Linked DNA regions of Homo sapiens. The protein of the gene in region 2 purifies or fractionates together with the protein of the main gene of each other region. This does not show direct contact. Each region holds a gene or a part of one and is shown on either strand. Other genes may lie near its edges. The genes, in order: GAB2, LYN, DENND2C, HCLS1, OSGEPL1, ANKRD54 and FRS2.

The links.
Region 1: the proteins of LYN (region 2) and GAB2 purify together in Homo sapiens (affinity purification with western blotting, with the first as the bait; one study listed by BioGRID). This does not show direct contact.
Region 3: the proteins of LYN (region 2) and DENND2C purify together in Homo sapiens (affinity purification with a luminescence readout, with the first as the bait; one large-scale study listed by BioGRID). This does not show direct contact.
Region 4: the proteins of LYN (region 2) and HCLS1 purify together in Homo sapiens (affinity purification with western blotting; 2 studies listed by BioGRID and IntAct, with this or other methods). This does not show direct contact.
Region 5: the proteins of LYN (region 2) and OSGEPL1 fractionate together in Homo sapiens (co-fractionation; one large-scale study listed by BioGRID). This does not show direct contact.
Region 6: the proteins of LYN (region 2) and ANKRD54 purify together in Homo sapiens (affinity purification with mass spectrometry; 3 studies listed by BioGRID and IntAct, with this or other methods). This does not show direct contact.
Region 7: the proteins of LYN (region 2) and FRS2 purify together in Homo sapiens (affinity purification with a luminescence readout, with the first as the bait; one large-scale study listed by BioGRID). This does not show direct contact.

What each region holds. Positions count from the first base shown.
Region 1 is NC_000011.10:78,407,289-78,411,521, forward strand, and holds part of GAB2 (GRB2-associated-binding protein 2), read right to left. Parts: intron 1-4,233. UniProt on the Homo sapiens protein: Adapter protein which acts downstream of several membrane receptors including cytokine, antigen, hormone, cell matrix and growth factor receptors to regulate multiple signaling pathways.
Region 2 is NC_000008.11:55,994,259-55,998,491, reverse strand, and holds part of LYN (tyrosine-protein kinase Lyn), read right to left. Parts: intron 147-4,233; coding exon 1-146. UniProt on the Homo sapiens protein: Non-receptor tyrosine-protein kinase that transmits signals from cell surface receptors and plays an important role in the regulation of innate and adaptive immune responses, hematopoiesis, responses to growth factors and cytokines, integrin signaling, but also responses to DNA damage and genotoxic agents.
Region 3 is NC_000001.11:114,663,316-114,667,548, forward strand, and holds part of DENND2C (DENN domain-containing protein 2C), read right to left. Parts: intron 1-4,233. UniProt on the Homo sapiens protein: Guanine nucleotide exchange factor (GEF) which may activate RAB9A and RAB9B. Promotes the exchange of GDP to GTP, converting inactive GDP-bound Rab proteins into their active GTP-bound form.
Region 4 is NC_000003.12:121,636,409-121,640,641, forward strand, and holds part of HCLS1 (hematopoietic lineage cell-specific protein), read right to left. Parts: intron 849-4,233; coding exon 738-848; intron 82-737; coding exon 26-81; intron 1-25. UniProt on the Homo sapiens protein: Substrate of the antigen receptor-coupled tyrosine kinase. Plays a role in antigen receptor signaling for both clonal expansion and deletion in lymphoid cells. May also be involved in the regulation of gene expression.
Region 5 is NC_000002.12:189,759,625-189,764,467, reverse strand, and holds the start of OSGEPL1 (tRNA N6-adenosine threonylcarbamoyltransferase, mitochondrial), read left to right. Parts: upstream 1-1,707; 5' UTR 1,708-1,783; exon of another isoform or gene 1,784-1,936; intron 1,937-2,807; coding exon of another isoform or gene 2,808-2,827; coding exon 2,828-3,048; intron 3,049-3,148; exon of another isoform or gene 3,149-3,341; coding exon of another isoform or gene 3,342-3,370; intron 3,371-4,843. UniProt on the Homo sapiens protein: Required for the formation of a threonylcarbamoyl group on adenosine at position 37 (t(6)A37) in mitochondrial tRNAs that read codons beginning with adenine.
Region 6 is NC_000022.11:37,841,085-37,846,075, reverse strand, and holds the start of ANKRD54 (ankyrin repeat domain-containing protein 54), read left to right. Parts: upstream 1-1,741; 5' UTR 1,742-1,837; coding exon 1,838-2,165; intron 2,166-2,227; exon of another isoform or gene 2,228-2,459; intron 2,460-4,991. UniProt on the Homo sapiens protein: Plays an important role in regulating intracellular signaling events associated with erythroid terminal differentiation.
Region 7 is NC_000012.12:69,574,308-69,578,540, reverse strand, and holds part of FRS2 (fibroblast growth factor receptor substrate 2), read right to left. Parts: coding exon 3,586-4,233; 3' UTR 1-3,585. UniProt on the Homo sapiens protein: Adapter protein that links activated FGR and NGF receptors to downstream signaling pathways.

The DNA.
Region 1 (4,233 bases), on a different chromosome or scaffold from region 2:
GCAAAATTCTGAAAATAAAGAGAAAAAAAATCATTGAACGCATCCAGAGAAAAAGATGGGAGCTGGTCGTGGTGGCTCACTCCTGTAATCCCAGCACTTTGGGAGGCTGAGTTGGGTGGATCACCTGAGGTCAGGAGTTCAAGACCAGCCTGGCCAACATAGTGAAACCCTGTCTCTACCAAAAATACAAAAAAATTAGCTGGGCGTGGTGGTGAGCGCCTGTAATCTCAGCTACTAGGGAGGCTGAGGCAGGAGAATCTATTGAACCTGGGACGCAGACATTGCAGTGAGCCCAGATAGTGCCATTGCATTCCAGCCTGGGTGACAAGAGTGAAACTCCTTCTCAAAGAAAGAAAGAAAGAAAGAAAGTAAGAAAGAAAGAAAGAAAGAAAGAAAGAAAGAAAGAAAGAAAGAGATGGCATTTTCCGTCCCAAAAAGAAAGAAAGAAAGAAAGAAAGAAAAAGAAAGAAAGAAAGAAAGAGAGAGAAAGAAAGAAAGAAAAGAAAAGAAAGAAAAAGAGGGCATTTTACCTCCTGAGGGAAAGCAATTGGAAAGACCATGGATTTTTCATTAGAAACCATGCAGGCCAGAAGGAAAGGATGCAGTATTTTACAGGTGCTCAAAGAAAAGAAGTGTCAACTAAATAATTCAATATCCAGTGAAAATATCAGAATGAAGGGGAAAATGAGACCTTCTCAGGTGAAGGAAAATAAAGACAATTTATCACTGGCCAATCTACCCTAAAGAATGGCTAAAGGAAGTTCTCTAAACAGAAAGGAAATGAAAAAAAGAGGAACCTGAAAACATCAGCAAAGAAGAAAGCACATAGTAAACAAAAATGTAATTAAATAGTCTTTCCTTCTGAGTTTTCTAAATTAGGTTTAATGACTGAAGCAAAAATTATAGCACTGTCTGATATAAAAAAAATATTTAAGACAATTATATATGGAGGATGGCAAAAGGACATAAAGGGAGGTAAGGTTACTATACTTTACTTAAACTTGTAAAATGATGATACAGACTTCATTTAGATTATAAGACGACACCAACTGACTGTTGTATGTACAGTATAATACCTAGAGCAACCACTAAAAAAGCTGTATAGAGAGATACACTCAAAAACACTATATAGATAAATCAAAATGGAATTCTAAAAAATATTCAAGAAACTCACAGGAAGGCAAGAAGAAAACAAAAACAGAACACAAACAAAAAATAAAGTGGCAGAACTAAGCTCTAGCATATTAGAAATTATATTAAGTGTAAATTTAAATATACCAATTAAGACATAAATCAGCACAGTGGATTAAAAACATGCCCCATGATATGGTTTGGGTATGTGTCCCTGCCCAAATCTGAGGTCAAATTGTCATCCCCAAATATTGGAGGTGGGGCCTGATGGGAAATGATTGGATTATGGAGGTGGAGTTCCCCTTTGGTGCTGTTCTCATGATAGTGAGTGAGTTATTGTGAGATCTGGTTATTTAGAAGTGTGTAGTACCTCTCCCCTCACTCTCTTCCTCCTGCTCCAGCCATGTAAGATGTGCCTGCTTCTCCCTCACCTTCCGCCATGACTGTAAGTTTCCTGAGGCCTCCCCAGCCATGCTTCCTGTACAGCTTGTGGAACTGTGGGCCAATTAAACCTCTTTTCTTGATAAATTACCCAGTCTCAGGTAGTTCTTTACAGCAGTGCGAGAACGGATTAATACACCCCAACAATATGCCACCTATAAGATATCACTTCAAATACAATGATATGGGTAGGTTGAAAGTAAATTGATGGAAAAGATGTATCATGTGAATATCAATAAAAGGAAAGCAAGAATAACTATATCATCAGATATAGGCTATAATATATCAAGTAGCCCTCAGATACTTGTATAATATATCAGATAACAAGTAGACCTCAGAGCAAAAGAAATTACCAGAGACTCAGCAGGTATTATATAAAGATAAAAGGGTCATGCCACCAAGAAGATGTTGCAATTCTAAATGTGTATATATTGAACAACAGGGCTGGGTGCGGTGGCTCATGTCTGTAATCCCAGCACTTTGGGAGGCCGAGGCAGGCGGATGACCTGAGGTCAGGAGTTCGAGACCAGTCTGGCCAACATGGAGAAACCCTGTCTCTATTAAAAATACAAAATTAGCCGGGTGTGGTGGCGCATGCCTGTAATCCCAACTACTTGGGAGGCTGAGGCAGGAGAATTGCTTGCACCCAGGAGGTGGAGGTTGCGGAGAGCTGAGATCATGCTATTGCACCTCCAGCCTGGGCAACAACAGCGGAACTCCATCTCCAAAAAAATAATAAAAAAAATAAAATATGTGAAACAAAAACAGATATAAGTGAAATGAGAAACAGAAATATTCACAATTATAGTTGGAAACTTCAACCCCTGTCTCTCAACAATCGACAGAAGAACTAGATAGAAAAATCAGCAAGGATATAAAAGAATTATATATATCACTATCAATCAAAAAGATATAATTGACATTTATGGAATACTTTACCCAATAATAGCAGAATAAACATTCTTTTCAAAGTACCCATGGAACCTAAAGCAAGATAGACCACATTTTCAGCAATAAAATAAACCTTGACAAGTTAAAAATAATTGAAATCAAATAGAACTTACTCTACTCCCACAATGAATTCCAACTAAAAGACAGAAACAGAAAAATAATGGGAAAATCTCCAAACATTTGGAAACTAAACAATGTACTTGTAAATAATCCATGGTCAAAGAGGAAAGTCTCAAGGAAAGTAAAAAAAATATATATATACTGAGCAAATAAAAATTGAAAATGCAATTTATCAAAATTAGTGGGACACAGCTAAAGCAGTGCTGAGAGGGAAATTCATAGCAGTAAATGAATACATTAAATAAGAGGAAAAGTCTCAAATGAATAAACTACTATATAAAAAAATCAGAGGCCAGGTGCAGCGGCTCATGCCTGTAATTGCAGCACTTTGGGAGGCCAAAGCAGGCAGATCACTTAAGGTCAGGAGTTTGAGACCAGCCTGGCCAATATGGTGAAACCCTGTCTCTACTAAAAATACAAAAATCAGCTGGGCATTGTGGCACATGCCTGCAATCCCAGCTGCTCGGGAGGCTGAGGCAGGAGAACTGCTGGAACCTGGGAGGTGGAGGTTGTAGTGAGCTGAGATCGTGCCATTGCACTCCACCCCAGGTGACAGAGTGACATGCTGTCTCAAAAAACAAACAAAAAATAATAATGAAGCAATGTCAGTATGCAAGAATAAGGGTTAAAAAAATAAAGCAGTGGACCCACTACAGACCCTGCAGACACTGAAAGCATAATACAGGATACTGTAACTCCACTCACATGTATGTAACAACTTAGACAAAATGGACCAATTTGTTGAAAAATGTAAACTTCTATAATTCAGCCAATATGAAGTAGATAATTTGAAGAACCCCGTATCTATTAAAGAAATTGGATTAAAAATGTAAAAAATTCCTAACAAAGACATTTCCAGATCCAGATGGTTTAATCTGGAGAATTCTACCAAAGGTTTAAAGAATTATACCAGTTCTACACCATCTCTTCCAGAAGGCTAGACATGGTGGTTCACACCTATAATCGCAGCACTCTGGGAAGCCAAGGTGGGAGGACTGCTTAAGCTCCGGAGTGTGAGACCAGCCTGGGCAACGCAGGGAGACCCTGTCTCTACAAATAATAAAAAAAAAAATTAGCCAGGCACAGCAGTACGCAGCTGTCGTCCCAATTACTTGGGAGGCTGAGACAGTAGGATCACCTGAGCCCAGGAATTTGAGGCTGCAGTGAGCCATGATTGTGCCACTGTCGCCAGCCTGTGTGACACAGCAAGATTCTGGTGGGGGTGGTTGGGGGGGGGGATGGTGGAAGGAGAAGAAAATAAACGAAGGAAGAAAGACATATATAAATAAATGTAAAATAAATTCATGGACTGGAAGATTTAATATAGTAAAGCTGTAATTTCTTCCCAAATTGGTACACAGGATTAATGCACTTCCTATTAAAATCTCAGCAAGACTTTCTTTTTTTTGCATAAACAAGATTATTCTAAAATTTGTATTGAAAGGTAAAGATAATAGAATAGCTAAAACACTTTGAAAAATAAGAATAAAGTAGAGGAATCAGGCTACCAGATTTCAAGACTTACAATATAGCTAGAGTTGGCAAGATTCTATGGTATTTGCAGAGGGACAGACACATGGAAAAATGGAC
Region 2 (4,233 bases):
GCTGTGTACTCATTATCTTCAATTACTCTAGCAAGGCCAAAATCTGCAATTTTGCACATGAGTGACTCGGAGACCAGAACATTAGCTGCTCGCAGGTCCCGGTGAATGTAGTTCTTCCGCTCGATGTATGCCATTCCCTCTGCAATCTGAAAACAGAAATAGGCTCCCATTTTCATATGTAGGGTAGGTGACTGGAAAGTGCCATCAAGGAAAACCGGAAAACTTATGAATTCCTGAAATCTTTTCATGTATACTATTTTGATCATTCAGCTTTTAAAGACAGTGGGTAATGGCAATCACCATTTGAGCCCTTTCTAAAATAACTGACCACCCTCTGCCAAATCTCCAACAATGGTCATCTTAAAAAAAAAAAAAGGAACATGTCTTAACATTTTCTTTTTTTTTCTTGAGACGGAGTCTCGCTCTTTCACCCAGGCCGGAGTGCAGTGGCGCTATCTTGGCTCACTGCAAGCTCCACCTCCTGGGTTCACACCATTCTCCTGCCTCAGCCTCCCGAGTAGCTGGGACTACAGGCACCCACCACCATGCCCGGCTAATTTTTTGTATTTTTAGTAGAGACGGGGTTTCACCATGTTAGCCAGGATGGTCTCGATCTCCTGACCTCGTGATCCGCCCGCCTTGGCCTCCCAAAGTGCTGGGATTACAGGCGTGAGCCACCGCGCCTGGCCATGTCTTAACATTTTCTAATGTGTGAAGAATCTTTTCAAGACCCTGCTAAATTCATCCATGTAGATACATAGATGTTATTATGCCAGTTTCTCAAATCAGAAAACAGATGCTATGGTCTGAATGTTTGTGTCCCATTCCCCGCCCCCTACCCCAAAGTTCAAATGTTGCAATCCTGAACCCCGAGGCAATAGTATTAGGAGGCAGGGCCTTGGCAGGTGATTAGATCAGGACGGTGGAGCCCTCACGAATGGGATTAGTGCCCTTGTAAAAGAGACCCCAGAGAGCTGCCTTGCCCCTTCCACCACGTGAGGACACAGCTATATGGTGCCATCTATGAACCAGGAAATGGCCCCTCATCAGACATGAAACCTGCCAGGGCTTTCCTTGCCCCTAAACTGTGGGAAATAAATGTCTCTCGTTTAAGCCACCCAGTCTATGGAATTTTATTATGGCAGCCTGAACCAACTATGAAAATAGAGTTGGAGAAAGTGACATGCTAATACAAATAAATTATTAAGGTATCAAGAACAGGATGTCGTTTCTGTCAGGTTAATCAACAGCCCATGGAACTGGCTCTCCAAGTTCTCTCTGCACATTCCCTCCAGGACAATCACAAAGATTCACTCTTTTTTTTTTTTTTTTGAGACAGTCTCACTGTCTCCCCCAGGCTGGAGTGCAGTAGCATGATCTCAGCTCACTGCAACCTCCCGCCTCCTAGGTTCAAGTGATTCTCCTTCCTCAGCCTCCCGAGTAGCTGGGATTACAGGCACGCACCACCATGCCTGGCGAATTTTTGTATTTTTAGTACAGACGGGGTTTCACCATGCTAGTTTTTGTATTTTTAGTAGAGATGGGGTTTCATCAGGCTGGTCTCAAATTCCTGGCCTCAGGTGATCCACTCACCTCAGCCTCCCAAAGTGCTGAAATTACAGGCATGAGCCACCACGCCCGGCAAGATTCACTCTCATGACAAAGTATGACAGCAGGAAAGAATCCAGGATTTAAACACAACAATAACATAGGGAGGCAAAACTACTACTCGTTGCTGAATAGAAAGTGTAGTATCGTTCCAAAGTCAGGTTTTTAAGGAAGACATTACCAAATTATAAAGTTAAGGAGAAGGAAGGAAGAAAGGAAAGGAAGGAGGGAAGGAAGGATGGAAGAAAGCAAGCAAGGAAAGAAGGAAGGAACAAGGAAATGAAGGAAGGAAGGAAACAAGGAGAGAGGAGGAAAGGAGGGAAGTAAGAAGCAAGAAAAAGGGCAAGAAGTAAAGAAAGCCAAGTAGTAGTTTATCTGGTAAGCAGTTAGAGAAAACTCTGATTCGAATTTTTCACACAGGAATGAATGTATTCTGCCAGATTCTACCTTGAATTGCAGGTGGCTCGGCTTGGAGGATCTGACTTTCCCCAGTCATCTGCAACAGTATCCCTGGTAATCAAGCACTTCAGGCCGCCAGTTCCAGACCACGTTGCTTAGCAAAAGATTAGCTCCTTGGTATTGGGTCTGCCTTTGCTTCCCCTCTAGGCCAATCCCTGGCCTCACCTTCTGCCCCGTGGGCCTTCCCTGAACTCCCCTTTACTCACCCTAGATGGTCAATGTGTACAAAAACCATCTGCAGCTGCTGATCACAGCTTTGTCATTATTTTTATGCTGTTTAATGCTCTCAGTGGTGTCATGTTAGCCAGTTGATAAACACCTCTAGGGCTGAAAATATCTTTTCTATTCTCACTTGTATACATTGGAGCCTTCAAACTTGTCACCAAACCTCTTATCAGAGACAAAGTAAGTCCTTTGGGAAATGGGCTGGGGTTTTCACATGACCAGAATACTATCTTGTTAGCCCACTACTACAGGGATTTGGCAGATGATATTCTCATGGTCACAAAAATCTCAAGTAAAATAATCAGTGTGGCCTACATCAGTCTCAAAGACTATTCAGTCCAGTATTTCACTTCCGAGTGGAAACAAAGAATGTGGTCCAAGCTCCTTTGCACTGCTGCCAAGGCCCCGTATGACCCGGCCCCGGCTCAGCCCTCCACCTCCTCACCACGACCCCCTCCTTTGTGCTTCTACACCCCCTGCCTCTGTGTGGAACGCTCATTCCCTCCCTGCCCCTTTCACCCGACCTATGCAGTTTGCCTGTCTCAGCTGAGATTTTACTTCTCCCGGAAGCCATGCCTGGCATACCCTCTCCTGCCAGGTGTGCATGCATCCCCAGTGCTCCCTGCTCCTCACCTGACTACCTGTCCACAATTTCTGCAGGAACATGAACCCATCCCAGCACTGAGCACAGCACAGCACTAAGCACAGCAGGAGGCTTCATTTCATGAGGGACTTGAGAAGTGGGACAGAGGCTGAGTGGAGCAGAAACCAGACGGACAGTAGGAAAAGGACAGGGCAGGTTTGGAGAGCAGTGACTTCGTGTCCCCTGCCTTTCTCCCAACTGTCACAAACCCTGAGCACTGGGGAGATGCACAGCTTTTACCTGACCCTGGAAAAGATTCAAACAGCCTTGATGGGAAGTCAACAGAAGGTGGGCAGTGGTGATAACCAGGTGAAGGCAGAGCTCCTGAGTCTGACTTTCTCTAGGAAGCCTCTGCTGCCCAGAAACAGCAGGCAGTGGCATGGTGAGGGCGTCAGGAAGTTCAGGATAGCTCCTTCTAGAGTGGGCACTACTGAAACAGATGACACGGGGTGGCAATTTTGGTGGCGGCTGGGAGAGAGGAGCCCTGCCTCTGTTTCCTTTTGTCTGCTGGTAACCCAAGTTCAACAAGACTTGTTAGAAAAAGCCAGTAAAACTGGGAAAAGTGGAGAGCGAAGATCAGGCTGAGCATGTGTGAAAGAAAGGAGTGTACGATTATAACACAGTAGGCTTTTGGCGATAGAACCACGATGCCTGGCTCAAACAGACCAGAGTTGGTTACAGGAGCCCAGATGAGACAGCAGCAATTGAGCGGTCATAGCTGACTCTGTCCCAGCCTCCCGGCTCCACTCCATGGTAGTGCAGCCTTTAAAAATTCTTAGCTCTTAGACACTTATCTACCTAACATTCCAATAATTATATATAAACTGGGCCAAGAACCCAAAGAAGCCAAAGCTGGCTGAAGTCCCAAATTGGGCCTGAAACCACAGTTGACAATAGCAACCAGGAACCTGTGCTGCCCCTCTCCCAACGCTGTTGATCGGCCACACAGGTGGGCATGATGGCAGGGACCCAGCCTCCCACACAGCAGCAAGGACACACGTGATGATCAACTCATTACAAAAAGCACTCCAGGGACTTGTTAGTAAGGCATTTGTCACACCTACCCACATCCCGCATTTGCATAAATCTGAGTGCATTTAAAAAAATGATTCTCAGAAATAATAACAGACTTGCAACAAACCTAGTGTATTTTGGCCTTCTTTTCCATGCCAGAGTGCTTTAAGGAGCTCAGATTCCAAACAGTAATTAAAGCGTTCACCAAGACAGGATTAGAAACAACAGCATTAGCCAAGTTGAATAAATAATGAATATGGGAGCAAAATAAAAGCTCTCAGATA
Region 3 (4,233 bases), on a different chromosome or scaffold from region 2:
TTGATTCAGTAAAGAACACTGAATATCAAAAAACATTTTTCAAACATACTTTTTTATTCTGACTCTGTACAAGTTAATCTATTTCTCTGTATCTAAAGTTCCAAACCAGTAAAGGGAGTATTTTCCATTTAAATGAGAAATGGGGGATGAATGAAAATGTTTTAATTATTTTAAGAAATGTACTAGAATTTAAAAACAGGAGGTATGATTTCGAAGAACCATGATTTTTTTTTTCTAAACCAAGCTTACGAATTCAAATATTTCAAAGATCCGTTAAGGTTGGCAGACTATGGCCTACCTGTGGGCCAAATTTGGCCCACTGCCTGTTTTTGCAAGGCCTCTGAGTTAAGAGTGGTTTTTACATTTTTTAATGGTTGGGTGGAAAGATCAAATAAGTATAACATTTTGTGATGTGAAAATTATATGAAATTCAAATTTCAGTGTCCATAAATAAAGTTTTATTGGAACACAGTCCATGCTTATTCATTGAAGCGTTGTCTATGGCTGCTTTTTGGCAGAATTGGGTAGTTATGACAGAGACCGTATGGCACACAAAGTACAAAATATTAATATTTGCTATCTAGCCCTTTACAGAATATTTGCTAACCCCTGCCTTAGAAGACCATACTGCTATTCTTTTTTTTTTTTTTTTTTGTCTTGTCACCCAAGCTGGAGTGCAATGGCACGATCTTGGCTAACTGCAATCTCTGCCTCCCGGGTTCTAGCAATTCTCCCACCTCAGCCTCCCAAGCGGCTGGGACCACAGGCATGTGCCACCATGCCAGCTAATTTTTTAAAATTTTTTGTAGAGACGAGGTCTCCTTATGTTGCTCAGGCTGGTCTAGAACTCCTGGGCTCAAGTGATCTTCCCATCTTGGCCTCCCAACGTGCTGATTATAGGCATGGGGACACAGTCTTTTGTTGTTTTTTAAGCTTTGTCTATGACTTCCAAGAACTAAAGATCCAGTGATGGGATAGGAATATGCTTTCGAAGCTTTGATTGATTGTGAACGGAAGCTGGGCACAGTGGCTCATGCCTGTAATCCTAACACTTGGATAGGCTGAGGCAGAAGGAGTGCTTAGGCCCAGAAGTTTAAGATCAGAATGGGCAACACAGTGAAACCCCATCTCTACAAAAGAAAAAAATTTATGTATTTATTTATTTATTTAAATTTTTTTGAGATGGAGAGTTTCGCTCTTGTCTCTCAGGCTGGAGTACAATGGCACAATCTCAGCTCACTGCAACCTCCACCTCCTGGGTTCAAGTGATTCTCCTGCCTCAGTCTCCCAAGGAGCTGGGACTACAGACACGCGCCACCACATCCAGCTAATTTCTGTGTTTTTAGTAGAGATGGGGTTTCACCATGTTGGCCAGGTGGGTCTCAAACTCCTGACTGAAGTGACCCACCGCCTTGGCCTCCCAAAGTGCTAGGATTACAGGTGTGAGCCACTGTGCCTGGGCAAAAAAAATTGTTTTTTAATTAGCAGGGGGTCAGGCCGGGTGTGGTGGCTCACACCTGTAATCCCAGCACTTTGGGAGGCCAAGGCGGGTGGATCACCTGAGGTCAGGAGTTCGAGACCAGCCTGATCAATATGGTGAAACCCCATCTCTACCAAAAATACAAAAAATTACCCAGGCATGGTGGTGTGCGCCTGTAGTCCCAGCTACTTGGGAGGCTGAGACAGGAGAATCACTTGGACCTGGGAGGCAGAGGTTGCAGTGAGCTGAGATCACACTACTGCACTCCAGCCTGGGCAACAGAGAGAGACTCTGTCTCAAGAAAAATAAAATAAAAAATAAAAATTAGCAGGGGGTGGTGGTGCATGCCTGTAGTCCTAGTTTCTCAGGAGACTGAAGCAGGAGGATCCCTTGAGCCCAAGAGGTCCAGGCTGCAGTGAGCTATGATTGCATCACTGTATTCCAGCCAGGGTAGCAGAGCAAGACCCTGTCTCTTGAAAAAAAAAAAAAAAAAGTAAATAAGTTATATGTGCCATGCAAATAAAGAGACAGAAAAACAATTCCATAATAAAGCCAGAAGATCTACGTTCTTGTGTAGCTGTGAATTTGCTATAAAGCTTTTTACAAAGAGAAGCTCCAATAATACTTTGGGCAATACAGACAGTCCCTGACTTAATGATGGTTTAAATTAACAATTTTTCAACTTTATGATGGTGCCAAAGCAGTATGTGCTCAGTACCCTCCTTAACTTATGATGGGGTTACATTCGGATAAACCCTTCGTAAGTTTATCACATGTTGACTAACAATATTTTCAACTTATGATGGGTTTATTCAGACATAACCCTATCGAAAATTGAGGAGCATCTGTACTTCTGGAATAAATGAGTGACTTCCAAATGAAATTTTAAAAGAACAGGACTCATTTGGATGTAAAAGTTGTTCAACTTTCAATTAAAATCCATTTCATTGCTTTATAATAATAATTTGTTGGACAAAATTAGCATAGATAAATAATTCCTTCTACTTACATAAAGCAAATCATTTATTCTTGGCCCTCTTCTCTTCTAATTCTACATACTCCCTTGAGCAATTTCATCTGCTCTTACGGCTTCAATTAACACTTACTGGCTACCTCTGAAATCTGAATCACCAATTTTAGCCTGGCTTCTGGACTCTAGATCCTCTCTCGACATCTCCACTTGAATGCTCCAAAGACAATTCAAACTCAACATGAATTCAAAATGGAAACAATTATCTTCCTCCAATATTAAAAAATAAAACAAGACCCTTCATCCAAACAGTTTTCCAAGCTAAAAAACTAAGTCATTTACTTTTCTGTTCCTCTTTTGAGCCAATTGATTTTAAAGCCCTGTCAAATTCTACACCTTCACTATCTATCCTCTCCTCTCCATCCCTATTACTATTTTCCTACTCCAGGCCCCTATCCTCCCTTATCTGGACTATTTCAATAGCAACAGCCTCCTAACTTATCTCCCTACCTTTTGTCTCTCTTCATCCAATTCAGCCTCCAAACCATTTTCAGCTTATCTTTCCTAAACACCTATATCTAAAATCCTTCACTGGCTCTCCATTGTCTTTAGAATCAAGTCCAAAGTCCTTAGCACGATACTCTGGCTCTTCAAGACCTAGCATCAGAAGACTTTTTTCCCTCTTTTTCTGAATCATAACTTTTTTTTTTAAAGACAGTCTCACTCTGTTGCCAGGCTGGAGTGCAGGTGCACGACCTCAGCTCACCGCAACCTCTGACTCCCTGGTTCAAATGATTCTCCTGCCTCAGCCTCCCAAGTAGCTGGGATTACAGGCACACGCCACCACACCCGTATAATTTTTGTATTTTAGTAGAGATGGGGTTTCGCCATGTTGACCAGGATGCTCCCGATCTCCTGACCTCTTGATCCACCTGCCTTGGCCTCCCAGAGTGCTGGGATTACAGGCATGAGCCACCACGCCTGGCCCTAAATCTTAACTTTTTACTTACCTAAGTCTGTAATGTTATCTTATATCTTGTACTTCAAAGTATTAAAAGTACCTTTAACACCATATTTTTTAGTGAAACATTCTGCCAAACTGAACTAATTACTCATTTCATTGTTCCAAATGAAGGGAAGTGAAATACCACATTACCTAGCAATTTTAGTGATCCTAATGCAATCAGCAAGGAAGCTTTGCAATTTTATTTTTTCATCTTATTTCCAGGCACCATCTCCTTTAGCCAAACCACCCATTTCTACACACCCTGGCCTTCAGTACAATGGACTACAACACATTCCTCAAACATACCATATACTTGCACACTTATCCCTGGTTTTCATTCATATCTCCTGTTTCCTGACCCAATTTCAGCAAACTCCTATTCATCCTTCAAAGCCAAATTTAATATCTTCTCTCTAATCGTCCTCCCTACCACACGCAGAATGATTTTTCCTCATCAGTGGTTAAATTCTATCTATACTTCTTTCTTTTTCTTGCAACTCTTCAAACGTACCTAAATCTATACTTCTTTACAGCTCTTATCATGCTGAAATTGTAGAGCCTTATTTACATGTTGGGTTATAAGCTTCTTAAAGACAGGGAAGCATTTTCTCTTCTTGAATCTAATACTTAATTTACAGTCTGAGAACAGATATTTTTAACTTCTTAATGAAAGAAGTTATGAGGTGCTTTTTAATGAAAAATAAGCACCTCATATTGTTAAGATAATGCCATAACTGTTGTTACTGAGGGACTGAGAGCTTAGAATCATCCCCATGT
Region 4 (4,233 bases), on a different chromosome or scaffold from region 2:
AGACATTGGTGTTCCGGTGCTTTACCTTATCCACTCGGTCCTTCTGGATTCCATACTGGCCACCAAAGCCCTTGGCATAATCTGCAGGACAGAAAGTTCTGAGTTATAGGAGATCAAAATGCTGGGAATGGGTGGTGAGAAGAATCAGTGGGAAGAAAAACAGGAATGTGGAAAACAAATGTAGGAGGAAATGTGAGAATCAGAGGATAGAGGGAGGCATGGATGGGAAGAGAGGGAAACAGATGGGGAAAAAATCTGGGAGCGAATGGAGAAGACAAAGATGGAAGTAGGGAAACATGGAAAGCAGAAAGCAACAGATAAGGAAAAATGTAAAAGAAATAGGAAAAAATACAGAGAGCACTTCAGCCATCCGTATGGGTTCCAGGGAAGCAGTAAACCTCTTTATCCTCTGTGAGGACAGCAGAGATCCCTCTAAGACTCATGGCAAACCATCTTCTGACCATCACTCAGCTTGTCTGTCCTCATTCCTTCCTCAACGCCCCCTTCTCTCTCACCTCCCTCCTAGGCCCTGCTCTTAATCCTTCTGTTTTCCTCTCCATCTCTCCTCTCTCCCCTCACTACCACCACCTGTCCCCACACATGTGCTTACTGCCCTGGCACCCCCTGCTCTGCACATCTGCCCCTCTGTATTCTGGGGCACCCGGGTGAGCTTCCAGAAAGGAAGGAAGGAGATCCCTGTGCTATCTGTGACCTTCCCCCTTCCAACCCCAACTCACCTCTCTGGGACTCGTGTTTCTCCGTCTCTCCCTTGTAGTCATATCCCAGAGCTGCTTTGTCCCATTTATCCTTCTCCACCCCGTACCGGCCACCAAAGCCACGAGAGTAATCTGTGGTCGAAGGAGCAGTCATGAGAGCCCACCCTTAGGCTCCAGCACACAGGGAAGCGCTGGAGAAGAGAGGTCAGCAGGAATGGGTACAGAGTGTTAGGGGCCTGGGAAAAGAGCAGGGCTTGAATACAGGGGAATTAAAGAGAAGCCATGTCTTAAGTAGTCTTTTAATTGAATATTGCTTACTTTTTCCCTCTCTTCTCTCATTTCCATGCCAAGATGAGAAGAACATTCCCATTTTCTCCCTTCTTCTTCAAGAAGGGGAAAGTATAGAGAGTGAGGAGATTGCAGAAAAAAAAAGGCAGATACATGAAATGTATGCCTTTCCCCTACTCCCATATAAGCACATAGAAATGTCAGATAAAACATAACAATTGTGTTTTAAAGAGTGAAGCTCAGGCCGAGCACGGTGCTCATGCCTGTAATCCCAGCACTTCAGGGGCCGAGGCAGGTGGATCACCTGAGGTCAGGAATTTGAGACCAGCCTGGCCAAAATGGGGAAACCCTGTCTCTACTAAAAAATACAAAAATTATCCAGGCATGGTGATGTGCGTCTGTAGCCCCAGCTACTGGGGAGGCTGAGACAGGAGAGTCACTTGAACATGGGGGGTGGAGGTTGCAGTGAGCCAAGATTGCACCATTGCACTCCAGCCTGGGTGACAGAGCGAGACTCCATCTCAAAAAAAAAAAAAGTGAAGCTCAGCAGAAAGGAAGGGAAAAAATCCTGGCTCCAGAAACCAGAGACAAAGAGATGAATCAAAGCTGTATGTGTGAAGATAATTATGAACTGACACCACAGAAAACCCAAGGGCATTTTTGGGGGATTTTTTGTTTTTAGAGGTAGAGTCTTGCTCTTTTGCTCAAGCTATAGTGCAGAGTACAATCATGGCTCACTGTAACCTTGAACTCCTGGGGTCAAGCAATCCTCCTGAGTAACTGGGACCACAGGCAGGTGCCACCATGACTTGCTAATTTAAAAAAAAATCTGTAGTGATAGGATCTCACTGTGTTGCCCAGGCTAGCCTTAAACTCCTGGGCTCAAAGGACCCACCCACCTCAGCCTCCCAAAATGCTGCAATTACAGGTGTGAACTACCACACCTGGTCAGATTTTAAATTCCAAATGTAATGAATAGGGATTAGGATCGAGGCTCTGTGATTCTAATTTCCATTTAAGAATGGGGGAGGAGGGAAGAAAGCCAGAAACGAAGCTCTGTCCACTCCTATAAGAGAGTGCTAGAAAAATTCTACTCATTTACTCAGGAAAATCATGAAGGGGGCTTGTAACCTGTTCAATATTTGATAGGGGGAAAATTTGCTTATGAGACTTGGAAACTCCAAGCCTACATCTGAGTGTAGAATGCAAATACACATTTTTTTTCCACTTATGTGATGCAGGAATTCTAAGCTGAGAAATTAACTAAATACTGATCCAGGAAAATATACATTTTGGAAAGAGTAAGCATAAGAAAGATGGCATGAATATGAGATAAAGTGATCTCAAGACAAAGTGCATTCTAAGAGACAAGAAAGACATGCTCCAATGATAAAAGAACAATACCTTACATCAGGAGTATGTATGCTGGCATAAACCTATTCACAGAACCAAAATTCATGAAGCTCTCAAATAAAAGAAAAATGTAAAAAACCAGGTGTGGTGAATGCCTGTAGTCCCAGCTACTCAGAAGGCTGAGGCAGGAGGGTGACTTGAGCCCGGGAGTTCGAGACCAGCCTGAGAAACATCGCAAGACTCCAACACACACACACACGCACACACACACACACACACACACACACACACAAATAATGCAAAAGCTGACAGAAGTAGAAAGAGAAATAGACAAATCTGTAATAGTAGTTGAACATTTAACACCATTCTTTCATTAATTAATAGGTATTTTAGGCAAAAACGAATCAGTAAAATTATAGAAGATCCAAACATTATCAACTAATAAACCTAATTGACTCTTATACAACACTATACCCCAAACTACAGAATATACTTTTTTCATGCATATAGAACATTGACCAAATAGACCATGTGCCAGTCCATAAGTCTCTAAGACAGTAAGTCTCAGTACATTTCAAAAGACTGAAATATCAGAGATCATATTCTGATCACAATAGAATTAAAGTAGAAGTCAATACCAATAAAATTATCTAGAAAATTTCCCTGATGCTCAGAAAATCAATAACAGCTTTTAAATAATACATGTGTCAAAGAAGAAATTACAAGGGAAATAAGAAAATATTTTTAACTGAATGATTTTATTTTTTGTTGTTGTTGTTGTTGTTGTTGTTGTTGTTTTTTGAGACAGGGTCTCACTCTGTTGCCCAGGCCAAAATGTAGTGGCACAATCATGGCTTGCTGCAGCCTCAACCTCCTGGGCTCAAGTGATCCTCCCACATTAGTCCCCTGAATAGCTGGGACCACGGGTTTGTGATGAATGAAAATTAAAACACACACATTCAAATATTTGTTGAATGTAGCAAATGTTTGTAGCAAATGAAGGTAGTGTTCAGAGGGAAATGTATAGCTTTTCAAGTGCCCATATAGTAAAGGAAGGCTTAAAATCAATTATCTAAGTTTCTACTTTAAGAGGCTAGGAAAAGAACAAACTAAATTAATACTAAGTAGAAGAAAAACATAATAAAGATAAGAGCAGAAACCAATACATTTTTTAAAACAAGTAAATAATAGAGAAAATTAGCAAAGCCAAAAGCTTGTTCTTTGGAAAGAGTAATAAAATTGATAAACTTCTAGTAAGAATAATTAAAAAGAGAAAAAACACAAGTAAGTAAGATCAGAAATGAAAATAGGCATTTCATATCACTAGAAATCTTACAGAAGTTAAAAAGAAGAGAATATTATAAATGAATTTATGCCAATAAACCTGACAACACAGACAAAATGAACAAATTCCTTGAAAAGCACAACATACCATAACCAACTTAAAAACCAGAAAGACTTGAACTCCATGGGAAAAAATAATAATAAAGGAAAAAAAATGTCCGTTACTATTAAGACCTCTAGAGTTGAGCCAGAAGTAGAGGCAATATTTCCCTGGATGAGGTACTTACTAAACCCAGGGCACATGAAATTCTCATAAAACAAATATCCCTCTCCTTCACTAAAATAAGTTTATAAACAAGATTACAAACCATCAAGGAAATAAATAACCATGAGGAACGCAGATTAGTCAGAAGAAATGGCACAGCCAAGAACTGCAAATAATATAAAATATGAAAGAAACTGCAAAGTACATGTTTAAAATAATTAAACAGCTTAAAGAAGTGGCACAGGGAACCATAATGAAACCATAATGTCTTATGGAAAATGAATCAGCAGATATGCAATAGAACCAAAAGAAACTCCAGAAATGAAA
Region 5 (4,843 bases), on a different chromosome or scaffold from region 2:
CTAGAGTTCTCCTGTTTCACATAATAACAGCATTCGGACTCAACACTGGCCAAGAGTGCCTAGACGAGGAATCTACCAATGATAGCACACACAATAGGATCTTGCTTGTCTTGACAGCACAGAAGAGCATTGGGATATACTTGCTGAACATAATTGGAATTGTAAGAAAAATAATACCTGATGTGAAAGGTTTTATGTTCAAACTGGATTCCAGTGTATAACAGAAATAAGCTCTGACCTCTCTAACCGTATGACTAATTTTTCTTAACTTTTAGGTTTTAATTTTTCTTTTTTCCCTTGTTTAGGCCAACAGTGCACCCTAGAGAAAATGTGAGTTATTTTCTCTTCTAGCAGTTAAGAAAACAGACTCCAGTGCCAGATGTCCTGACTTCTAATCCTAGCTTTGCTTTTCCTAGTTGTGTGACCTCCAAAGCACCCAAACTCTGTGGCCCAGTTGCCTGTAAAATGAGGACAGAAACTATTTCATGGGATTTTGAAAGAAATTAATCTACAGCAGGTGCCTGGTACATAGTGCCACTTTATCATTATTGTTACACATAAATGAAATTTTTGAAAAACATAAGTTCCAAATAAAAAACCTCAACCATATTCTGGTAATTATTTACTTATTTATCTGTATCCACCTCTAGACTGTACTCTGTGGCTTCCCAACATGTTGTTATGGGATTTACTCATCTTTTATACCCAGAGCTTCACAACGTGCAAAGTGCAGGTATATATGCCAGCCCTGTACAACAGTGGATTCTAAGGTCCTTGCTTACTAAAATCTTAAATACCAGCAGGGGAAAAGCCTGACTCTTGGAATAAATCTGTCCAATGTTCAAAACAAAGTTCACAAACCAATAAAAGAAAAAAAAAAAAAAAAGCAGGTGCAAGACTTTGAAAACATACCATGCTGAATTTCATGTACATAGTAAGGAAGGACAACATAATGCATTATGAAAATAGGATGGTTTAAGGCAACTGAATATTTACCACAGCCTTTTTTTTTTTTTTTTTTTTTTTTTTGAGACAGAGTCTCGCTCTGTAGCTCAGGCTGGAGTGCAGTGGCGCGATCTCGGCTCACTGCTACCTCCGCCTCCCGGGTCCCAGTTCAAGCAGTTCTCCTGCCTCAGTCTCCCGATTTTTTTTTTTTTTAATTGTAAAAATAAGCCAGCCCCTTTCTTCCTAGTGAAGTGGGAGAAACGGTTTACACTGTCCGATGAGAAACACTTCCGTTCTTTGGTAACCCTGCTAGGGGGCGCCGCTAGATTCCATCCTATTTCTCCGATGAAAGTATCAGGTACCTCACCCCTAAGTTTAGATTTGATGATAGTTCCCTTAAAAATGAATGACGAATAATCTACCCCATCCTTTTCTCACAGTAGCAACCAAATTCCAGCCAAGGGCAAAAAAAAAATTTCTTTTTAATGTAGCTTAGTGTTTGGAACTTGATGTTGTGTAGTCAGACAAACCTGTATTCGGCCTCCGCTGGATCAGTCACTAGCTGTGTAATTTTACAGAACTCTCATCACCTGCAAATCTGGGGGAAATGCAGGTGCGCACAGAGAGCGTTTTGGGCAAAGACGGCCTTTAAGCTTTTCTTCACTAAGCATGCCGCTCGCTAGCGGAACAGCAGCCAGCTCTGGACGGGACCTTGCACAGTTCCGATGACATCACTTCCGGGCGCCAGGTTCGGGCTTTCTCCTGCAGCGATAAGGGCAGTCGACAGTCTTTAGTAGGGAAAGGAGACAAGTGCTAGCTACTGCCGCCCAAGTGGAAGGTGGGTGAAATTGCTCACTCTTCACCCCACTGACGCTTTTGCGCACCTGGAAAAGCGGTTCCAGTTTGCGCCCGTCGCCGCCTTACAGCCGACAGGAGACCAGCGCTACCCAAGTCACGTGGGTTCAGCCTGCAGCTTTCTTGGCCCGAAAGGGTAGTGCTTCGTACAATCCTCCTTGTCCAGATTTTGTTAATGCAAATCTAATTCCTCTAGGTTGTGTCTGTCTGGGCTGCACTGCCCGCAACTGCCTTCTGCAAATAGGTCGCTCATCTCTAATCCCTGGGATGCCGTGTCCCTTTAGTGTGGTGGAGAAAGGCCCTGCTTTAACACCCAGAAAGTTTTAGAACGGATGATCTGGGGGCATAAAATTAGGTGCTTCGCAGTGTGAAAATACTAGTGTGCTTTAGTGATGGGCTGCTATTATTTTGGGGGAAAAGGATTTGGGAAGATCCTTGTTATGACAAAACCTGTAGCAAAAAGTGGAGATTTAATTCCAAAGATTGCAATTAAGGATAAAATAGGTGTTAGGTTGCAGTTGGCGTGTGTGTGTTTATGTTAACTCTTGTTTTTGAACCAAATGATCCAGTTTTATTTTGAAAGATGTTTTTAGGAGATGGAATACATTAACAGTATTTTTATCTGTTCCATCTGCCTTTGTTGTTTGATTCTTTTTAGAAAATCCACATTTTGTCTTAATTTTAGCTGTCAAAAAATAAATAGCACTTTTCAGAGGACTCTATCAATTATTGTACTTTATATTAGCTGTCTTAATAGTAAGTCTTTTGGTAGGAACAGCATGCAAGTAATAATAATACTAAAAAATTTTATATCTGACCCCTGTTTTCCCCCTTGGAGAACATTATATTCATTCATAATATTATTTATATTCCCATGTTGCTATAGCCTTTACAAACTTTTGGTGACTTTTACAAACTTTCCTGTAATTCTGTAAAACTATATATTGAAAAATAAGCTGGCTAATGTCAGTTGCAAATAATAAGTTGTTTCTGTAATTCTTTTTCAGGAATTATCTATAGAGTAAGTATGCTAATCTTGACTAAGACTGCAGGAGTTTTTTTTAAACCATCAAAAAGGAAAGTTTATGAATTTTTAAGAAGTTTTAATTTTCATCCTGGAACACTATTTCTTCATAAAATAGTATTGGGAATTGAAACTAGTTGTGATGATACAGCAGCTGCTGTGGTGGATGAAACTGGAAATGTGTTGGGAGAAGCAATACATTCCCAAACTGAAGTTCATTTAAAGTAAGTAGACATTATCTTAGTCATTTCCACTTTTTTGGAAAAAGTAAAATCATTCTTTTGTATTTGTCATATATAAAAGTTTTCAGGAGCTACTGTCTTATTCCTTTTTGCAAACACTTTTAATAACTGCTATAGAAAACCTCAAACACTTCATCCTGGCTTTTAAGGGTCTTCACAATAAGGTCCCAACCTTAACTAATCCTGTTGCCAAAAGAAACTGAGCTCATTCCCAGCTTCCGTATTTATTGATTTTCCTTCAGTAATGCATTCCTTCTTTTCTCCACTTCTATGTTTCATGGTCTCAGCTGAAGTCCTAGGAAAACTGTTAGTCATTGAAAAAAAAAATCCTATTCATATTTATACATATAACTTGTATTAGTACTTAAATAATAATACACTGTTGTATTAAAGCATAGAATGGTGCAAGGATTATAAACTGTGATGTTTATAGAGGACTACCAGGCAGGTTACCTAAATAAATGGACAAGATAAAAAGTGGAAAATGTCTGGAGGAGGTCACTACTCAGCTCTAGCCAGTTGTCATGTGGGAATGCAGGACCTGTGTTATTAGATTATTATAATTTTCAAGGGAAAATGGAAATCCAGATTTTTTTTTTCTTTTTTTTTGGTGAGACAGAGTCTCACTCTGTCACCAGGCTGGAGTGCAGTGGCATGATCTCGGCTCACTGCAATCTCCGCCTCTCGAGTTCAAACGATTCCCCTGTCTCAGCCTCCCAAGTAGCTGGGATTACAGGCACGTGCCACCACGCCCAGCTGATTTTTTGCATTTTAGTAGAGACGGGGTTTCACCATGTTGGCCAGGATGGTCTCAATCTCCTGACCTCTTGATCCACCTACCTCGGCCTCCCAAAGTGCAGGGATTACAGGCGTGAGACACCGCGCCGGGCTGGAAATCCAGATTGTTAATGTATTTGCAGATTTTTTACATTAGTAGCTAATTTAGAATATATTAAAATACTCTTGGGAGGTGGGGGGCGCCCCCGCCCAGCAGCCGCCCCGTCTGGGAGGTGGGGGCGCCTCTGCCCGGCAGCCGCCCCGTCTTAGGGGTGGGGGCCCCTCCGCCTGGCCGCCACCTCTGGGAAGTGAGGAGCCCCTCTGCCCGGCTGCCACCCCGTCTGGGAGGTGTACCCAACAGTTCATTGAGAACGGGCCATGATGACAATGGCGGTTTTGTCGAATAGAAAAGGGGGAAATGTGGGGAAAAGAAAGAGAGATCAGATTGTTAATATGTCTGTGTAGAAAGAAGTAGACATAGGAGACTCCATTTTGTTCTATACTAAGAAAAATCCTTCTGCCTTGGGATGCTGTTGATCTATAACCTTACCCCCAACCCCGTGCTCTCTGAAACATGTGCTGTGTCAACTCAGGGTTAAATGGATTAAGGGCGGTGCAAGATGTGCTTTGTTAGACAGATGCTTGAAGGCAGCATACTCGTTAAGAGTCATCACCACTCCCTAATCTCAAGTACCCAGGGACATAAACACTGCAGAAGGCCGCAGAGTCCTCTGCCTAGGAAAACCAGAGACCTTTGTTCACATGTTTATCTGCTGACCTTCTCTCCACTATTGTCCTATGGCCCTGCCAAATCCCCCTCTCCGAGAAACACCCAAGAATGATCAATAAATACTAAAAAAATAAATAAATAAATAAATAAGAATAAAATACTCTACAGATGAGTATACCTTTAAGCTATCAATTTACAACATCTGAATAGTGAAAAAGCCTGGTATTTTGGAATCACAGTCCTGTATTTGAATCCTGAATTAAGCACTTG
Region 6 (4,991 bases), on a different chromosome or scaffold from region 2:
AGCCTCCTGAGTAGCTGGGACTAAAGGTGCCCACCACCACACCAGGCTAATTTTTTTGTATTTTTAGTAGAGACGGGGTTTCACCATGTTAGCCAGAATGGTCTCAATCTCCTGACCTCGTGATCTGCCTGCCTCAGCCTCCCAAAATGCTGGGATTACAGGCGTGAGCCACAGCGCCAGGCCTTTTTTTTGTTTTTGTTTCTTTCTGAGATGGAGTCTCGCTCTGTCACCCAGGCTGGAGTGCCATGGTGCGATCTCAGCTCACCGCAACCTCTGCCTCCCAGGTTCAAGCTACTCTCCTGCCTCAGTGTCCTGAATAGCTGGGATTACAGGCGTGCGCCACCACACCCAGCTAATTTTTGTATTTTTAGTAGAAACGAGGTTTCATCATGTTGGCCAGGCTTGTCTTGAACTCCCGACCTTGTCATCTGCCCATTTTGGCCTCCCAAAGTGCTGGGATTACAGGCGTGACCCACCGTGCGGAAAGATTACATTTTAACTGGGTTGAGTGGGAGGGTTTATATATGGAAAGAACTTTTGCCAGGACACAAGACCTGGTCCGGTGAGAGCTGGGCAACTGTGAATGAGTCTCTTCCCTCTGCTTTTCAACTCCTCACCTATAAAATAGGGATGGTCCTTCTTGTCTACTTTATAGAAGTGCTTGTGGGGTACGGGATTGTGAGAAGTTTTATGAAAACGTGCACCCATGAAATGTTGCTTGAGGAACACTTATTTGTTTCCTGGTCTTCTCCCATTGGATTGTGAGCATCTCAGGGGCACCAAGTCTGATCCTGTGTCCAGGACCTAGCAGTTACCTGGCTCAGTGACTGGCTGTCGAACTAAACTATTGCTCTAATGTAATCACTTTGTATTACAAATCTTTGTAGATCAGTCATCTACGTCGGGGTTACCTAGAGAACTCTGACTAAAGGAAATCCATTGCATTTAGACACTATTACTCACAGTTTGTAGTGGTATCTCCAAATTTCAACACATTTTCCCTTTCCCACGTACATTATGCATTTGTGGGAAGTTCTTTTTTTTTTTTTTTTTTGCGTTCATTGATTTACAACATCTATATCTACATGGATGGCGTGGCTTCTTCATTTTCCTTTGTGAGTGCCTGCAAATCATCTTAATCTGATTTGCTAAGGTATCTGCTTGTTTTCTCATTAGACTGGGAAATGGAGAGGAAAAAGAAAAAAAAAGGCCGGGCGCGGTGGCTCACGCCTGTAATCCCAGCACTTTGGGAGGCCGAGGCCGGCACATCTCGAGATCAAGAGATCGAGACCATCCTGGCCAACATGGTGAAACCCCGTCTCTACTAAAAATACAAAAATTAGCTGGGCGTGGTGGCGCGCGCCTGTAGTCCCAGCTACTCGGGAGGCTGAGGCAGGAGAATTGCTTCAAGGAGGCGGAGGTTGCAGTGAGCCGAGATCGCGAGCCTGGCGGCAGAGCGAGACTCCGTCGCAAAAAAAAAGCGTCTGAAATGCTGTTTTACTGGCTCCGGTAGCGACGTACAGCGAAAGCCAAGGTCACTTCAAGTTTGTAATTGGTTACAATGTCTGTCAGTCACGTTGCCGGAAACCCTGTCCAATTATCCTGCTTGTACTGTGCCCTCCCTTTCCGATTGGTTTTGGGACCGGTTTAAGCTGGAAGGGTAGTCATTGGTTCGCCGCTCTGTCTCGGCCTGAGCCCGCCCCCGCTCGGTTGCCGTGGTTGCGGGCCCTGCCCGCCCGCCAGCTCGCTGACAGCACGACTCAGGGCGGAGGGAAGTAGGTCCGTTGGTCGGTCGGGAACGAGGCTCAGGCGGCCAGGCCCGCGCGGAGCCGTTGCCATGGCAGCCGCCGCCGGGGACGCGGACGACGAGCCGCGCTCAGGCCACTCGAGCTCGGAGGGCGAGTGCGCGGTGGCGCCGGAGCCGCTGACTGACGCTGAGGGCCTCTTCTCCTTCGCTGACTTCGGGTCTGCGCTGGGCGGCGGCGGCGCGGGCCTCTCGGGCCGGGCGTCCGGCGGGGCCCAGTCGCCGCTGCGCTACTTGCACGTCCTGTGGCAGCAGGATGCGGAGCCGCGCGACGAGCTGCGCTGCAAGATACCCGCTGGCCGGCTGAGGCGCGCTGCCAGGCCCCACCGGCGGCTCGGGCCCACGGGCAAGGAGGTGCACGGTGAGCGGCGCGAGCGGCGCGGGGGCCCGGGGCGGGGCAGCCCGGGCGAGGGGCGGGGCCTCAGAGGACCAGTGGCCGCGCTTTGGTCGCCCCCGACCCTCAGCCGGGGTCCCCCGACGTCTGCGCTGAGGGCCACACTGACCCTTGAGTCTCCTTTCAGTAACGATGGTGATGATGGTTTTTTTAGAAAGTCTTCCTGCTCTGAGCCAGTCACCCCAGTCTTCTCTCACTGGGTAATTTCTGAATGGAAACTTCCCATGACTCGGAACGCTTATTGGTGAATAATAAAATGAGGTACTGGGGAACACTTTTATTATCATGGAGAGGGGAGGCCAGAGCCTGCAGCCAAGTCGTACCAGCTTGTTTAAATGCACGGACTTGGACTCCTTTACCACAGTTAGACCTTAGGGCAAATGATAGACCCTTTCAACCTTAGTTTTCTTTTTAAATTTTTTTATTTTTATTTATTTATTATTATTATCTTTTTGGAGACGGAGTCTCGCTCTGTTGCCCAGGCTGGAGTGCAGTGGCGCCATCTTGGTTCACTGCAACCTCCGCCCCCCGGGTTCAAGCGATTCTCCTGCCTCAGCCTCCCGAGTAGCTGGGGTTACAGGCGCCCACTACCAAGCCCGGCTAATTATTGTAATTTTAGTAAAGATGGGGTTTCACCATGTTTGCCAGGCTGGTCTCGAACTTCTGATCTCAGGTGATCCACCCACCTCGGCCTCCCAAAGTACTGGCATAACAGGCATGAGCCACTGGCCCGGCCTCAGCCCTAGTTTTCTCATCTGTAAAATGGGATGAGTTAAGTAAGGTAATGGATGTTTAGCTGTTATGCTGCCTTTGCTGTGCCCCAAACACTGCTGATACATGATCATCTGTCCTCACAAGAACTCTTTGAGACATAGAAATTGTTCCCACTTTACTGAAGAGGAAACTGAGGCTCAGAGAAATTGTCTTATTCCAGGTCACATAGCAAGTGGCTGTTGCTGGTATTAGAATCCGGGTCAGCCCGACTCAAACTTCTCCTCTGGTATATCTACCATATTGTCTTCTACAATGCATGGGTGACATGGAAACCCAGGCACTGAGAGATTAAGAATGGGGACTTTGGGGATTTCTTCCAGGACTGGCTATGACTCTAGCCATATTTTAGTGATGTCACGAAGATGAAATAAGAATTTGGAAGCGTTGTATTGACCATAAAGTGCTGTATGAAAGCAAGGAATTGTCATGTATCTGAATTGCAATTTTTGACCATATCTCCGATGACAAAGACATTGCTTTCCATTAGCCATTGGAGGGGGAAAATCTGCTTAGGAAATACCAAATTTAGGCAAATCATTTGGGAACGACCTGCTTTGAAGGAGAATATAAGATTATCTGTGTAACCAGCTCACAAAGAGCTTCTGTGTAAATCATTTGCAATAACTCGGGGCTGGCAGAACAACTCAGCCTTGTTTTGCAGATGATAGACCTGAGGCCCAGCTGGGTTAACTAGCTTGCTCAAGGTCACCCTGTGACTACAAGTGATAGAGAGGAAATCTGGCTCCAAAAGTCTTGGAGGATTTGCAGGAGGATGTGGCCTTTGTACTAGCTCCGCCTCATTTCAAGTTTCTCCTTGTTCCCAGGGCACTGTCTTTCTTTTCTTTTTTTGAGACGAGAGTCTCGCTTTACCACCCAGGCTGCAGTGCAGGTGGTGCAATCTCGGCTCACTGCCTCAGCCTCCCAAGTAGCTGGGACTACAGGCCCGCACCACCACACCCAGCTAGTTTTTGTATTTTTAGTAGAGATGGGGTTTTACCATGTTAGATTGATTTAAGTTAGAACTTAACCTAAGATTGAGAAATATTTTTTCTTTCTTTTTTTTTGAGATGGAGTGTTGCTCTGCCACCCAGGCTGGAGTGCCATGGTGTGATTTTGGGCTCAAGTGATTCTCGTGTCTCAGCCTCCCAAGTAGCTGGGATTACAGGCATGCACCACCACACCCGGCTAATTTTTGTGTTTTTATTTTATTTATTTATTTATTTATTTATTTATTTATTTATTTATTTATTTATTTTGAGACAGAGTCTTGCTCTATTGCCCAGGCTGGAGTGCAGTGGCGCGATCTTGGCTCACTGCAACCTCCGGCTCTCAAGTTCAAGTGATTCTCCTGCCTTAGCCTCCTGAGTAGTTGGGATAACAGGCATGCACCACCATGCCTGGCTAATTTTTGTATTTTTAGTAGAGAAGGGATTTCACCTTATTGGCCAGGCTGGTCTCAAACTCCTGACCTCGTGATCCACCCACCTTGGCCTCTCAAAGTGTTGGGATTACAGGCGTGAGCCACTGTGCCCGGCCTATGTTTTTTGTGTGTGTGTGTGTGTGTGTGTGTGTTTGTGTGAGACAGAGTCTCACTCTGTTGCCCGAGCTGGAGTACAGTGGCACAGTCTTGGCTCACTGCAACCTCTGCCTCCTGGGCTTAAGCGATTCTCCTGCCTGAGCCTCCCAAGTAGCTGGGATTGTAGGCGTGCACCCCCATGCCCAACTAATTTTTTGTATTTTAGTATAGACAAGGTTTCACCATGTTGCCCAGGGTGGTTTCAAACTCCAGAGCACAGGCAATCTGCCCACCTCAGCTTTCCAACGTTCTGGGATTACAGGCGTGAGTCACCACGTATGGCTAGTTTTGTATTTTTAGTAGAGATGGGGTTTCAGCATGTTGGCCAGGCTGGTCTTGAACTCCTGGCCTCAAGTGATCCACCTGCCTTGGCCTCCCAAAGTACCGGGATTATAGGCATGAGCCACTGCGCCCAGCCATTGTGGCTTTTTTTTTTTTTTTTT
Region 7 (4,233 bases), on a different chromosome or scaffold from region 2:
ATGCTACAAAAGAACTGTGTTATACCAAAAATGAGGAAGTAGGGATGGGGAACAGGGATGTAAAGAACAGGAAAGATAGATAGGGTGCTGGTTTGGGCAGAGTATACTGTGGTACGTCATAAAATATGTTAATTTTTCAAGCCAAAAACATTTTCTTTACATTCTGTAATTTCGTACCAATGCCTTTATTCAAATTTGGCAAACATCAAGGAAAAGGTAATTAGTACCATATACCTCACACATCAGAAATATGAATGAGATGCCAATACATCAGTTACTTGTGAATGATGTCTCTGATGGTATGTCTATTTCAAGAATATATGTATTTATACACACACACTACACATTGCACAAAACATTTGGGCATTATAGGTTAGGAATAGCACGGGGGAATTGGGAAGTACTTTTTCATCTGTTAAAACCTTTACCTTGAGGCAAAAATATGGCGGCACATTGTTGGGAAATTATGAAAACATAAGGCCCCTGTCCCATTTTTAATAGAACATTATTGAGGTACATTTTTATATGCTGTGCCACAGTTTTGGGGAGGGGGAGGAGATAAACACTAGCTTGACTTGTTCTATTTATAACATTGAACGCTGGAGAGGGTCAACATTAGTATCTATAAAAACAAAGATTGCTTGGCAAATTTTCCTAAGTCCCAGATATGATGTATTCTGGATATACTGAGAAGTGAAAAGCTTTTTGCTGAATCTTAAAGAGTAAAGTGCATATCTCATCACTCCACAGCAGCAGTAAATAAAAGGAAATATTTGCCAGTCTTCCTGGAGGGAGGGAAGGCACCATATTTTCATTTTTAGAAGAAGATGAAACTGGGAAATAAAACACACTAAGAAAAAACACAAGTAATACCAATATCAGTTTCCAACCCTAGCATGGGATAGATGCTGTTATGATTTGTATGGATAAAACAGTATTCTATTTGGAGGGAAAACATTAACAATGATTATATTTCCAAAACCAAAAAGAAGGATCACATGGTCTACCAACAGAATTATCTAAAATTAGATCTGCCTCAGAAAATCTGAGATATATGGCCACAATTATATGCTAATAAAATATCAATATTTCATTCTAAAATGCACCTAGTAATAGGTACATCCTTCGAGGACACAGCTTAATGCCCATTACTAAACTACTGCAAAGGACAAGTAGTATTCTAAATTACCTTTTATTAAATAGGAACACAAGTGATTTCTAGAAAATATCTAGAAATTAACACCAGTTGTATATATTTTCCTAATACTCTTATAGTACCTAAAATCAAATTCTTAGCAGACAAATTGGTCCCATTTTCCTTTTTAAAGCACATAGTATTTAAAGCATAAACTGTAATGATTATATTGGAGTTATCTAAAAAAAATAAAAACTAATTAGAATCCGGGGGAAACAATGAAAAGGATGACGGAAAGAAAGAATAAAGTACCCAACCTCCAAAATGAATAAATAGATCAGCCCTTGCATTTGGAGATTAATGTTCTGCCTTGACTGGCTGTTTCAGAAAAAAATGTGCAATGGTTCCATCATAATTCTTATTCCACATTACAAAAACTATTACATAAATTTGGCACAATTAGCAATTTACTCAGAAGAAAGGATAAGTGGAACAATATATTAAAAATGGAACCTGCATCATGGAAACTGCACACCTATACCACTGCTCTCTTTTAAGAGAACAGTGAGCACTTTAATAAGCACCAAGTTCACAGGGGAACAAAAGGGAGAAAAGAAAATTCTGCTATGCACATAGAATGATAAAATACACTGATATTGATTTATAGTAAAGACACTAAAAATGGCACTAAAACGATAAAGACACCTTTAATAATTTATTTTCTTTATAATGATCCCACTCTATTGTTCTCCTAATCCATCATTGTCCTATGATTCGGTTACTGAATAGGTTGGATGCCAATATGACTAAAACTTTTTCATGCTAAATTAACCTTAGTTATATCTGGTAGATCCAGATCATAATCTCAAACTTCCTCATATTTAGAGAAAATAGTAAAATATTTTGCAAGGTTACCTAACCTTTTCCACTCTACCTTCTCTCGTATTCTCTAGTGTTTAGGAAATTGGAACATCTTTGATTTTCCAAGAGTTTGACATATGGAGACTCTTCAGTTTATATAAACTTTAATTCATTTTAAATCCTAAATTATGATACAATCTCACTGCTACAAGACTTCCACTGTACCTGCTATGCTGGCAACAATATTAATATTTCATGGAAATCGAAGGATAATCAAAGATCCAGCTACAAGTAAAAGGACAGCAGAGCTGAGGAACACTAGAGTGGGCAGAGTACAACTGCAGCGTGTAGCTGGGGGAATTACTGCTAAAGTGCTGGGGAAGAGTGCCCACAGAGACAACACGGTACACCTTGAGGGAACTTTGCATGTTAAAAGTAGCTTCCTTTTTTTCTCAGTTTGCTAAAGAGATCACCTATGGACACAAGCAAATTTAGAATTGGAGAATGTTTTTATCAACTTGAAAAGTAAACAGCTTATAAATAAATACTGGACAAGGGCAACCCTGTTACAGACTAACAGTAAGTTCCAAATGAACCTTCAAAACCATAATTTGACAAAAATGCAAACTAAACAACAATGAACACATAATCCAATTTCAAAACTATATACAAACTCAAACATTTTAAATTGAAAAGGACATAAGGCAACAAAATAAGACATCCCAAACACCAAAGAAAAAAACTGAAGATAAATGGAAACCTAATGGCACAAATGCCTCCAGAAAACAATGTGTTGTCAACAATCTATAGGAGAAAAACTTTCAGGAGATTGTGGTTCAGATTTTCAAATGTTTTTGGGTAAAGTGACCTGAGACTGATTCTTGAGCCTATTATAATTTTAAGATATCTGGACATGCCCTTCAAATGACATCATGAGATGAGTAAATAGAAAATCTTGTCTCCTTCCTGCCTTTCAGTGCACCAACAGCAAAGCACACTCATGGACACAGGCCGCTTTCTAGTAACACTGAAGGCAAAGGAGCTGACTGGTGTAAGAGGAGGTGCGGTACTTCTGTTTCCTTTACATATGTTTTGGCTCAAGTCAAAAAGCCATTAATTAATGAAATAAAGGATTCCTCATGTTACATGCTGGAGGCCACATACTGTGAACACTGAATCTACGAGCATTACTTTCAAAGCCTATAGTTACCTGTTAGCAATGTACATTGTCAAGAGGCTTTATAAAAAGTTTTAAAAGCCAACCATGACTTAGACATGAAAGGTATGCGTTAAGTCCAGAATATTGATAAAAATCAACCAGCATGTCATTTACTTCAACTCTCATTTTAAATAGGCACTGTGAAAACGGGAATGCTGCTGTACAACGAGTAGTATATAATGAAATTAGTGTTCTTTAAGGAGTACCTGCTCTACATTAATTCCCTTTAGTTAAAGATGCACATGAAATATTCAGAAAAAAATTTTATCAGTCTATAAAAGGAGTTAGTGTTTAGAAATGAAAATGAAGCACTTGCATCTTCATTTTTAAAAACTTCACAAAGGTGCAAACAACACAATGCTTTCCAGGCTCACATGGGCAGATCAGTACTATTGTGTCTAGTTTTCCTAGATGTACCATCATCTCGTGGCAGTGCTTTCTGCAAATTTGACATAGCAGCAGTTCTCTCGATGTCTATCACGGCATACAGCTCTGTGCGCCTGGTAGGGGTTTGTGGAAGGGGAGTTGTAGGCGTTTTTGGAGTCTGAGGGTTGTCAGAGTCACTGCCACCTTCCAAGTCAACCTGTATGTAATTAAGCTGCCTGTGTTCTAAACTTGGGCGTCTGATATCAAAGTTAAAGACTGTTGGTGTACAGTCCCGACGCCTTGAATATTCTATTTTGTGAGCACTTGCTGGCACTGTTACATTCTCTGTATTTACATAGTTATGCATTGGATCTAGATTATTATGGTAGCCATTTAGAGATGGGGTCTTTGGTCCTAAATTGTCATCTTCATCCCTACTTAGCTTGCGGGCTTCCCAAACAGGAGGCAAAGATGGTAGATTTTCATAGTTTAATAATGCAGTTCTTCTCTGAGCTGAGTTGTTGATATTCTGGGTATCTGAGGTACTGGTGGATGTCAGACGACCTCTCCTGACCCCTGAGGCACTAGGGATAGATAGCCCATTTATATTTTCATACACCAGTTTGTTAACAGAGGGTGCATCTCTTCGTTC